2 separate regions of the Homo sapiens genome follow, and region 2 is linked to region 1. The links come from fine-mapping of genetic effects on gene expression. A gene starts in region 1. The other region holds a variant in brackets. All regions are shown on one strand. Distances are from middle to middle.

Region 1 (4,382 bases):
CACGCCTGGATAATTTTTTGTATTTTAGTAGAGATGGGGTTTCACCATGTTGGACAGGATGGTCTCGATCTCCTGATTATCTGCCCGCCTTGGCCTCCCAAAGTGCTGGGATTACAGGTATAAGCCACCACGCCTGGCCTAATTATTGTATTTTTAGTAGAGATGGGGTTTTGCCATGTTGGCTAGGTTGATCTTGAACTCCTGACCTTAAGTGATCCGCCTGCCTTGGCCTCCCAGAGTCCTGGGATTATAGCGTAAGCCACAGCGCCCGGCCCCCTGCATGTTCTTGACTTCACGCTCTGCTGTGTTGCCATCTTGAAATTCTTAATTTTTTTTTTTTTTTTAGATGGAGTTTTGCTCTTGTTGCCCCAGGCTGGAGTGCAGTGGGGTGATCTCAGCTCACCACAACCTCTGCCTCCTGGGTTCAAGCAATTCTCCCACTTCAGCCTCCTGAGTAGCTGCGAATTACAGGCATGTGCCACCACACCTATCTAATTATTTTTTGTATTTTTAGTAGAGACAGGGTTTTTCCATGTTGGTCAGGCTGGTCTCGAACGCCTGACCTTGTCATCTGGCCAGGCCTCCCAAGTGCTGGGATTATAGGCATGAGCCACTGCGTCTGGCCGAAATTCTTAATTTTTTAACAAGAAGTGCTGCATCTTCATTTTGTGCTGGGCCCCCCAAACTATGTAGCCAGTCCTGGAAGAAAACAGTGACACATTTATTTGCATGCTTACTATGTGAGCAGCAAACAAGTGACAGTGCTGGAACCGGGACCCAGGCCGTTTGGGTCCAAAACCACGGGTCCTAACCTACATCTTACCATACTTCCTGTCTCTCGAATCAAGAGGGCTAGTGAGAGTGGAGAGGAAGGGAAAGAATAAGAACCTTCTGTTTCTTCCACCAGAACACTCTTCACTCCCCTGCCTCTCCTTCCTTCCTATTGTCGTCTCAGTATCAGTTTCGTTTCCTCAAAGAGGTGTTTCCTGGTCCCCAAACCTAAATTATGCCCCTCTCATTCTCTCTTTTCTCCCTTAGTATTTTATTTATTATTTATTTATTTTGACAGAGTTTCGCTTTTGTCGCCTAGGCTAAAGTGCAATAGCATGGTCTTGGCTCACTGCAACCTCCACCTCCCGGGTTCAAGCGATTCTCCTGCCTCAACCTCCTGAGTAGCTGGGATTACAGGTGCCTGATACCATCCCTGCCTAATTTTTGTATTTTTAGTAGAGATGGGGTTTCACCACGTTGGCCAGGCTGGTCTCGAACTCCTGAACTCAGGTGATCCACTCACTTTTGGGAGGCCGATCTCCACTCAGGTGGAGGTTGCAGTGAGCTGATTCAGCCTCCCAAAGTGCTGAAATTACAGGTGTGAGCCACCGTGCCACGTTTCTTCTTTAATATTCTTTAGAGTATTCATCAGAACTTTGCGTATTTATTTGTATATTTCCTTGTTTTAATGACAATCCCTCACTAGACTGTGTGCTCAATGAGGGCAGAGATTTTGTCGGGTTTTGTTCCCTTATCCCCAGCAGAGAACCTGGCACATAGTGGGTATTTCATAAATGTTAGTTGGAAAGTACAGTTTATAGAATGTAGTGACAGATCAGATGTAATTGTAGGGAAGCCTGGAGGATGACCTAGGAAATTCCACTTGGGTGATGCTAATTGCCAAGGTGAATATAGGAAGTTAGGAGTGGGACAGGAATGATTATGTGGATTTGAGATGTGTCCAGTTCGAGGGCTTTTGGGGGTGGCTTGGAGAAGGCAATCTTCTGCTGGGAAACTTCTGACTCTGTCCCTACTGCAGCCCAGGGTAGGGGCTCCCTACCTCCACCTGGGCAGATCTCTGCCATCACCCATCTCACTGGCGTGCTCTTGGGAGCCTATCTGTTCCCTGGGCGGTGCAGCTCTACGGGATTTGGAACAGTGTTGCAGGTCTCATCTCTGGCTCGCAGGGCCCCCAGGGGTGTGTATGCAGTCAGGGCTCAATAAATGCCAGTAGACGGAAAGAAGGAAGGCGAAAAATGTGGCCAGACACTCAGGGGAGAGGCTGGGGTGAGGAGCAGATCTGGGAACGTAAATAGAACTAGAAGTCCAAGTTGGAACCCTGGAGCCCTAGAGACAGGGTGGACAAAAAAGTGTTCCAAGCCAGGAGGCCAGGCACAGGGCTAAGCGCTTTATTCACATGACTGCATTTCATCTTCATATCTACACTAAAGAGGCATAATTATTCCTACTTTGTTCATGAGAAAACAGGTCCAGAGAGGTGACGTGATTTGCCCAAGGTCACACAGCGAGTGAGCAGCAAAGTCTGGATTTGACTCAGGGCTGTTGTCCCCTAAGCCCGCACGCACTCTTCCACTTCACTCCCTGCCTCTCCAACCCTCCACCTCCCTATCCCTCTCCCCTCCCCTCCGGCGGCTCCCCCGCCCCACCCCTCTGCCGTTCCCCCCAACTCCCTCCCTGTCGGTGGCGGCGGCGGAGCCACGTGGTGGGGCCGGGAAGCCGCGGCCGACGAGAGCCCGGGCGACTGCCCCAGCTGGGCAGTGCTGCTCTGCGCTGCGCCGCGCTCGGGGCTCGCTCTCCTTGCTCCGCGCTCCCCGCCAGCCGCCCCGGGGCAGGAGGCGCGCCTGACGGACGGCCCGCTAGACAAAGGAGGCGCGGCTCGGCGGGGCCAGCGCGCGGACGGACGGACCATGGACTCGGAGCGCGGGCGGCCGGCCCCAGCCTTGGGGACCGGACACTCCCGGGCCCGGCCCTAGGCGCCCGGCCCCGCCGCCCGGCGCGCCCAGCGGGGAGGACGTGGAGCCCGCGCGGCGCGAGCAGGCGGCGGCCGCGGAGCAAGAAGGGCGCCGCGGCGTGCGGCCCGCGCAGCCCCCGGAGCCATGGGCAAGTGCAGCGGGCGCTGCACGCTGGTCGCCTTCTGCTGCCTGCAGCTGGTAAGCGTCGCGTGCCCAGGCAGTCGGGGCAGGGTGGGGCGCGGCGGGGCGCGGTCCCAGGGCGTGCGGGTGGGGTTGCGTGTGTCTCTGTGTGTGTGTCTGGTGCGTGTGCCCGGGCGGGGGGTGGTCTGGAGTCTCGGAGCGGTCGGGCGGAGCCTGCTCCCGCTGGCCGGGCTGTCTCTTTGTGTGCGCTTCTCGCTGCTGTGCCCGGCGCTCCTCCGGTCCCCAAGTGCGTCCTGTGCGCGAGTCCCCGGCCCGCCCGCACTGTACAAGTGGCCTCCTGTTGGGGGATGCGCTGTGGGACGGTGGCTTGCTGGGACTGGGGGTGTGTCTGAGGCTGATCTGTGGATCCGTTGAGGTCCTGCTGTGTGTTTCCCTCTAGATCCCTCGTTTGCATGGGTCTCTCCCTTCCTCTGGGTCTCTGCCTCTGATCACCACCCCTGTGTGAGCGTTTCTCACAAAGTCTCTGCTCCGGCGTGTGTCTCTCAGGGTTTCTCTTTGGTGTGTCTCTAAATCGCTGACCATTTCTGGCCCATGTTCATCTGTGTTCTGGGATCTTAGACTCCAAGAACCCTCCAATCCTTTGTGTTGTTTCTGCCTCCCTTCACCTTCCTGACCGGGCAGTCCTGGGAAAGGAGAGCCACCTCCCTGGAGAGGGTCACCAGGAGCTGCCAGATCCTGGGCCAGCCTGACCCAGCCTGGACCACACTTCCTGCTTTGGTCTGGCCGCTGTGGCCATGGGGGTTCCATCAGTCATCAGTTCCACCCACCAGAGCAGCTCCTCTGCCGGGGCCAGCAACAGTGGGGATGGGGACACTTGGGTGCCCTAGGGAGGACCAGAGCATCTGAGGACACTGTGCCTAGCCCCAGCATAGGGAACTCAGGTTCTTGTCTCAGGGAGGAGTGACTGTAGTGGACTAGAAGAAACAGCACTGCCCTTCAAATCAGGCCCTGGCAGGGGAATTTGGGAGGGTGGTTAAGGAGAGGCAGGGGTCTCCTACCTACCCTAGAGCTGAGATTGAACAACTAGGGAGGTTGAAGCTGTGCTTCTCCTCTAGGCAGAGGTGCATGGGGACCTCCATCGCCGAACCCAGGTCTGAGAGTGGGCAGCGAGGAGCCTGAGCCCCCCTCATGCTGGACTCCTTGTTCTGGGTTTCCACTCTTGCCTGCATCCATCACGCCCTCCCCACCACAGGAGCCAATGATAATGTAGAGTGAAGTTTTGAGCCTGGACATGCAGACCTCCTCATTCGTCTTGCTTCTCTCCTCCTGGGGACACCAGCTTCAAACATGCCATCCACAGACCTGGCCTGGGCAGTGGTGGAAACAGCCCTAGCTCTGGAGATTGTAGCCCTGCTCCCAGCTGTGGGAGACTGGACAAGTGACTTCCCCCCACTGGCCGGCCTCAGTCTTCTTATCTGTAAAATGATTATCCCTGAG
Region 2 (4,382 bases), 32 kb after region 1:
AGGGATTCTAAATGTCCATGTCCCTAACTTCAGGGTTGGACCCTTTCTCCTTACTCACCCCTGTCAACCTTTCCCTGGCCTGATGCACAGATGTGGGTTCTGTTAGAAATGATCTCCATTTCAGATGAGGAAACGGGCTCAGCTGTGTTGAGTGACCTACTGTTAGGTTTGGTGCAAAAGAGATTGCGTTTTTTGCCATTGAAAGTAATGGCAAGCCGGGTGTGGGGGCTCACGCCTGTAATCCCAGCACTTTGGGAGGCCAAGGCGGGTGGATCACCTGAGGTCAGTTGTTCGAGACTAGCCTGGCCAACGTGGTGAAACCCCGTCTCTACTAAAAATATAAAAATTAGCTGGGCGTGGTGGTGGGTGCCTGTAATCCCAGCTGCTCAGGAGGCTGAGGCAGGAGAATTGCCTGAACCCAGGAGACGGAGGTTGCAGTGAGCCAACATGGTGCCACTGCACTCCAGCCTGGGCGACAGAGTGAGACTCCATTAAAAAAAAAAAAAAAAAGAATGGCAAAAACCACAATTACTTTTGCACCAAACCTAATAGCTTTGTGGCCCGTGGGTATGGCTGGCTTCTGAGGTTGCAGTTCTTGTACCTGCTGGCTTGGGAAAAGGAGGGCGCTGAGCCCTAAGAGATGCATTACTAAGACATAATGCATTTCTGCAAAGCATCATTCTACCCTGAATTTGGTGGGCGTGAACTAAGGAGGAGGCTCTATTTCAGAGTAGAATGCTGGATGATGTGTTGGATGATGCTGGATCAGCCATTGTGAGTCCTCTTCATTCTTATCTTTTTTTTTTTTTTTTAATAAGACAGGGTCATGCTCTGTTGCTCAGGCTGGAGTGCAGTGGCCCAACAATAGCTCACTGCAGCCTCGACCTCCTGGGCTCAAGGGATCCTCCCACCTCAGCATCCTGAGTAGCTAGGACTACAGACATGCACCACCACACCTGGCTAACTTTTTTTTTCTTTCTTTTTAGAGACAGGGTCTCACTTTGTCACCCAGACTGGAGGGGAGTGATGCGATCACAGCTCACTGCAACCTTGACCTCCCAGGTTCAAGTGGTCTTCCCACCTCAGCCTCCGGAGTAGCTGGGACTACAGGCATACACCACTATGTCTGGCTACTTTTTTTATTTTTTGTAGAGACAGGGGTCTTACTATGTTGCCCAGGCTGGTCTCAAACTCCTGGGCTGAAGCAATGCTGCATCAGCTTCCTAAAACATTGGGATTACAGGCATGAGCCATCATGCCTGGCTATACGTATTCTTTTAGGATAAAAAAGAGTTCCAGGAGACTCCCTTTTTGCAGGAGACTCCCTGGAGGTGGAATCTGCTGTTGGGATTCTCAGCTGGGAGAGGGGTGGAGGCTGCACTCTGCTGGGCTGCTGGTTGTTTTTTTGTTTTGTTTTGTTTTGTTTGAGATGGAGTTTTGCTCTTGTTACCCAGGCTGGAGTGCAGTGGCGCAATCTCGGCTCACTGCAACCTCCGTCTCCCGGGTTCAAGTGATTCTCTTGCCTCAGCCTCCCAAGTAGCTGGGACTACAGGTGCCCACCACCAAGCCCAGCTAACTTTTGTGTTTTTAGTAGAGACCAGGTTTCACCGTGTTGGTCAGGCTGGTCACGATCTCCTGACCTCGGGTGATCCACCTGCCTCGGCCTCCCAAAGTGCTGGAATTACAGGTGAGAGCCACCACTCCAGCCCTGGGCTGCATTTCTTGGCCCAGTCTTGGCCCAGTGGGATGGTCTTCCTGTTAAAGCCACGGAGGGCATCTTCCCTGTGAAGGGAGAGCTTGATGGCTCCCAGGATGTCAGTTACCCCATTGGATCCACTCCCACCCCCTGGGAGGTGAGAAGGGTAGGAGTTATATTGCCCAGTTTACAGATGAGAAAACTGAAGCCCTGGAACATCAAGTGTGATTTGCCCAAGGCCTCAGTATCACAACTCGCAGAGTCCGACAGCATGTTATAGACCCACACCAGAGTGTGGCACGGAACAGGAAGAGCCAGAGTTCCTGAAAGTCAGGAGGTTTGTGTAACGCCTCTGCTGTAGACAAGGGCTGACCGCTCTCAAAGTCCGGGGCAGCTTCAAGGGAGCATTTTGAGGGAGGCCTGTGGCCTAACAAACTGTGCACTTACATCAGAGGTTTCCAGGGCCCCCTCCCCCCACTATGTGGGGGCCACATAGACCTTGGGTTAATTGCAGGATCCTGTGAGCTTTGGTGTCTCTGTGTCTGGGATCCCCACCCCCAGGGGTGCTGTGAAGGCAGGTAGGCTTCCCTGCTTGATAGGGTAGCAAAGGCCTGTGGGTAGGACTTCTGCATTTTCTCTTATTAGCAAGGAAGAAAGGCTTCTGGAAAGAATGAAAGAAATCTTCACGAAAGGAAGCCGGGAATGAGAAAGCTGCAGCAGAGGCGGATCTCCAACAGAACACAAGTTTCCATAAGCGGGGGG[T/GT]GGAAGAAAGAATTGGACTCAGAGGAGACCAAAGAATGGCATTTGTTGGGTGCTTCTTCTGTACCAGGCATTATGCTTTGCATCCTTTAGTGTCACAGTGACTCTGAGGTTTTATTCTTTTCCTTTTTATAGATGAGGAAACGGGCTTAGGGAGATTTAAACACTTGCCAGAGGTCACACGGCTAGTAAATGATGGAGTGGGGATTTGAACAGAACACATCTCAGCCATCATCGGTGGCATGAGCGGATCCATTGGGAGAGTTTCCAGTTCCAGTAGTGCAGGGAGTCAGGCCACAGCGGTGATGCTTTGGGGGCCCAGCGGCCATCTGTGGACCAGGAGAGCTAGTGGGGAAACCTGGGGTGGTGGCAGACAGGCTCTAGAGCCTGCAGATCTGTGTTCCTGCCTCTACCGCTTCCTGACTGTGTAACCTGGGATCTGTTACTTCACCTCCCTGGGCCTCAGTATCCATGTATGTAAAATGACACTTCTCCAAGGGTTGAGAGGAGTACATGATATGGACATCAAGCAGCGTGTACAGGGCGGGCTCAGTGCAAGTCCCCAGAGGGTGGGCAGCGTCAGTTTCAGTCCTTGCCCTCTTCCTTGGGCTTGTGTAATTTGATAATTGAAGTTTGTCTGTGTCACCATAGACTTGGCACAGCTCGTGGCCAGGGCAGGGGCTGTTCCTCTTTGCACCCAGGGTCAGTGCCCATGAATGCTTCATGGGCAAAGAAGAACAAGAGTGGGGCAGGGGGGTCAGGCAGCTGCTGGGCTGCTTGGGGATGAGTGGGGTGAAATACCACCTGGCCTCAAAGTGACCTGCACATTAGGACAACTGTGATCCTTTCTCCTTCAGTACATGAGTCCTCTGTATGAGCAACACAGGCCCAGAGTCTGCACTACAGGGAACAATCATCGTAGCTAACACTTCTATGGCTATGAACCAGGCAGTGTTCTGAACATTTGACACATATTCCCTACTTAAGCTTCACAACATTCGCTTGAAATGGGTACTGTTATCATCATCCCCATTTTACAGTTGGCTAATAAATGACAGAGCCGGGATTTGAAATTAAAGAACAGAGAGGTTAAGTGACTTACTGAAGGTCACACAGCTAATAAGTATTAAAGGTAGGATTCAAACCCAGATAGTTTGGCTCCTAGGCCATACTTTTAACCTCTGTGGTGTACAGCTTCTTGGGGAACAAGCAGCAAGAATCTGATCTTGGTATGAAACCAAGGATTTAACAATTATCCTAATAATGGCACATGTGGGCACAGCACTACACAGTTTAAAAAGCACATACAGCCAGGTGGGATTACAGGATCACACTTTTAATCCCAGCACTTTGGGAGGCTGAGGCGTGCGGATCACTTGAGGTTGGGAATTCAAGACCAGCCTGGCCAACACGGCGAAACCCCATCTCTACAAAAAAATACATAACCTAGCTGAGCGTAGTGGTGCATGCCTATAGTCCCAGCTACTCAGGAGGCTGAGGTAGGAGGATCTCTTGAGGCTCAGAGGTTGGGGCTGCAGTGAGCCATGATCATGCCACTGCACTCCAGCCTGAGCAACAGAGTGAAACCCTGTGTCAGAAAAATTAAAATAGGCCAGGTGCAGTGGCTCACACCTATAATCCCTGCACTTTGGAAGGCTGAGATGGGCAAATTGCTGGAGCTCAAGAGTTTGAGACCAACCTGAGCAACATGGTGAAACCCCATCTCCACCAAAAATACAAAAAATTAGCCAGGTGTAGCGGTGTGCACCTGTGGTCCTAGCTCCTCAGGAGGCTGAGACAGGAGGATCACTTGAGCCCAGGAGGCAGAGGTTGCAGTGAGCCAAGATCACGCCACTGCATTCCAGCTTGGGCAAAACAGTGAGACCCTGTCTCAAAAAACTAAATACATAAAATAAATAAAAATTTA

Alleles and levels. Positions count from the first base shown, and alleles are read on the strand shown. Sizes are in standard deviations (SD) of each study's normalised expression.
With allele T in place of GT in region 2, the expression in nucleus accumbens of the gene that starts at base 2,549 in region 1 is lower (large effect, 0.78 SD a copy in GTEx).

Evidence for each region. PIP is the estimated chance that this variant, and not a neighbour inherited with it, causes the effect.
Region 2: its variant is the best candidate, but not a certain one, in a credible set for the expression of NKAIN1 in nucleus accumbens (GTEx, PIP 0.62).

What each region holds. Positions count from the first base shown.
Region 1 is chr1:31,238,054-31,242,435 of GRCh38, reverse strand. NKAIN1 (sodium/potassium transporting ATPase interacting 1) reads left to right here and starts at 2,549. Exons shown (of 7, transcript NM_024522.3): 1 at 2,549-2,942. The coding sequence starts at 2,889.
Region 2 is chr1:31,206,420-31,210,801 of GRCh38, reverse strand. All of the region lies in intron 1 of NKAIN1 (sodium/potassium transporting ATPase interacting 1), which reads left to right. Among named protein-coding and RNA genes, the nearest start is that of NKAIN1, 31 kb to the left of the region's middle. The variant T/GT (reference allele first, on the strand shown) is at 2,459.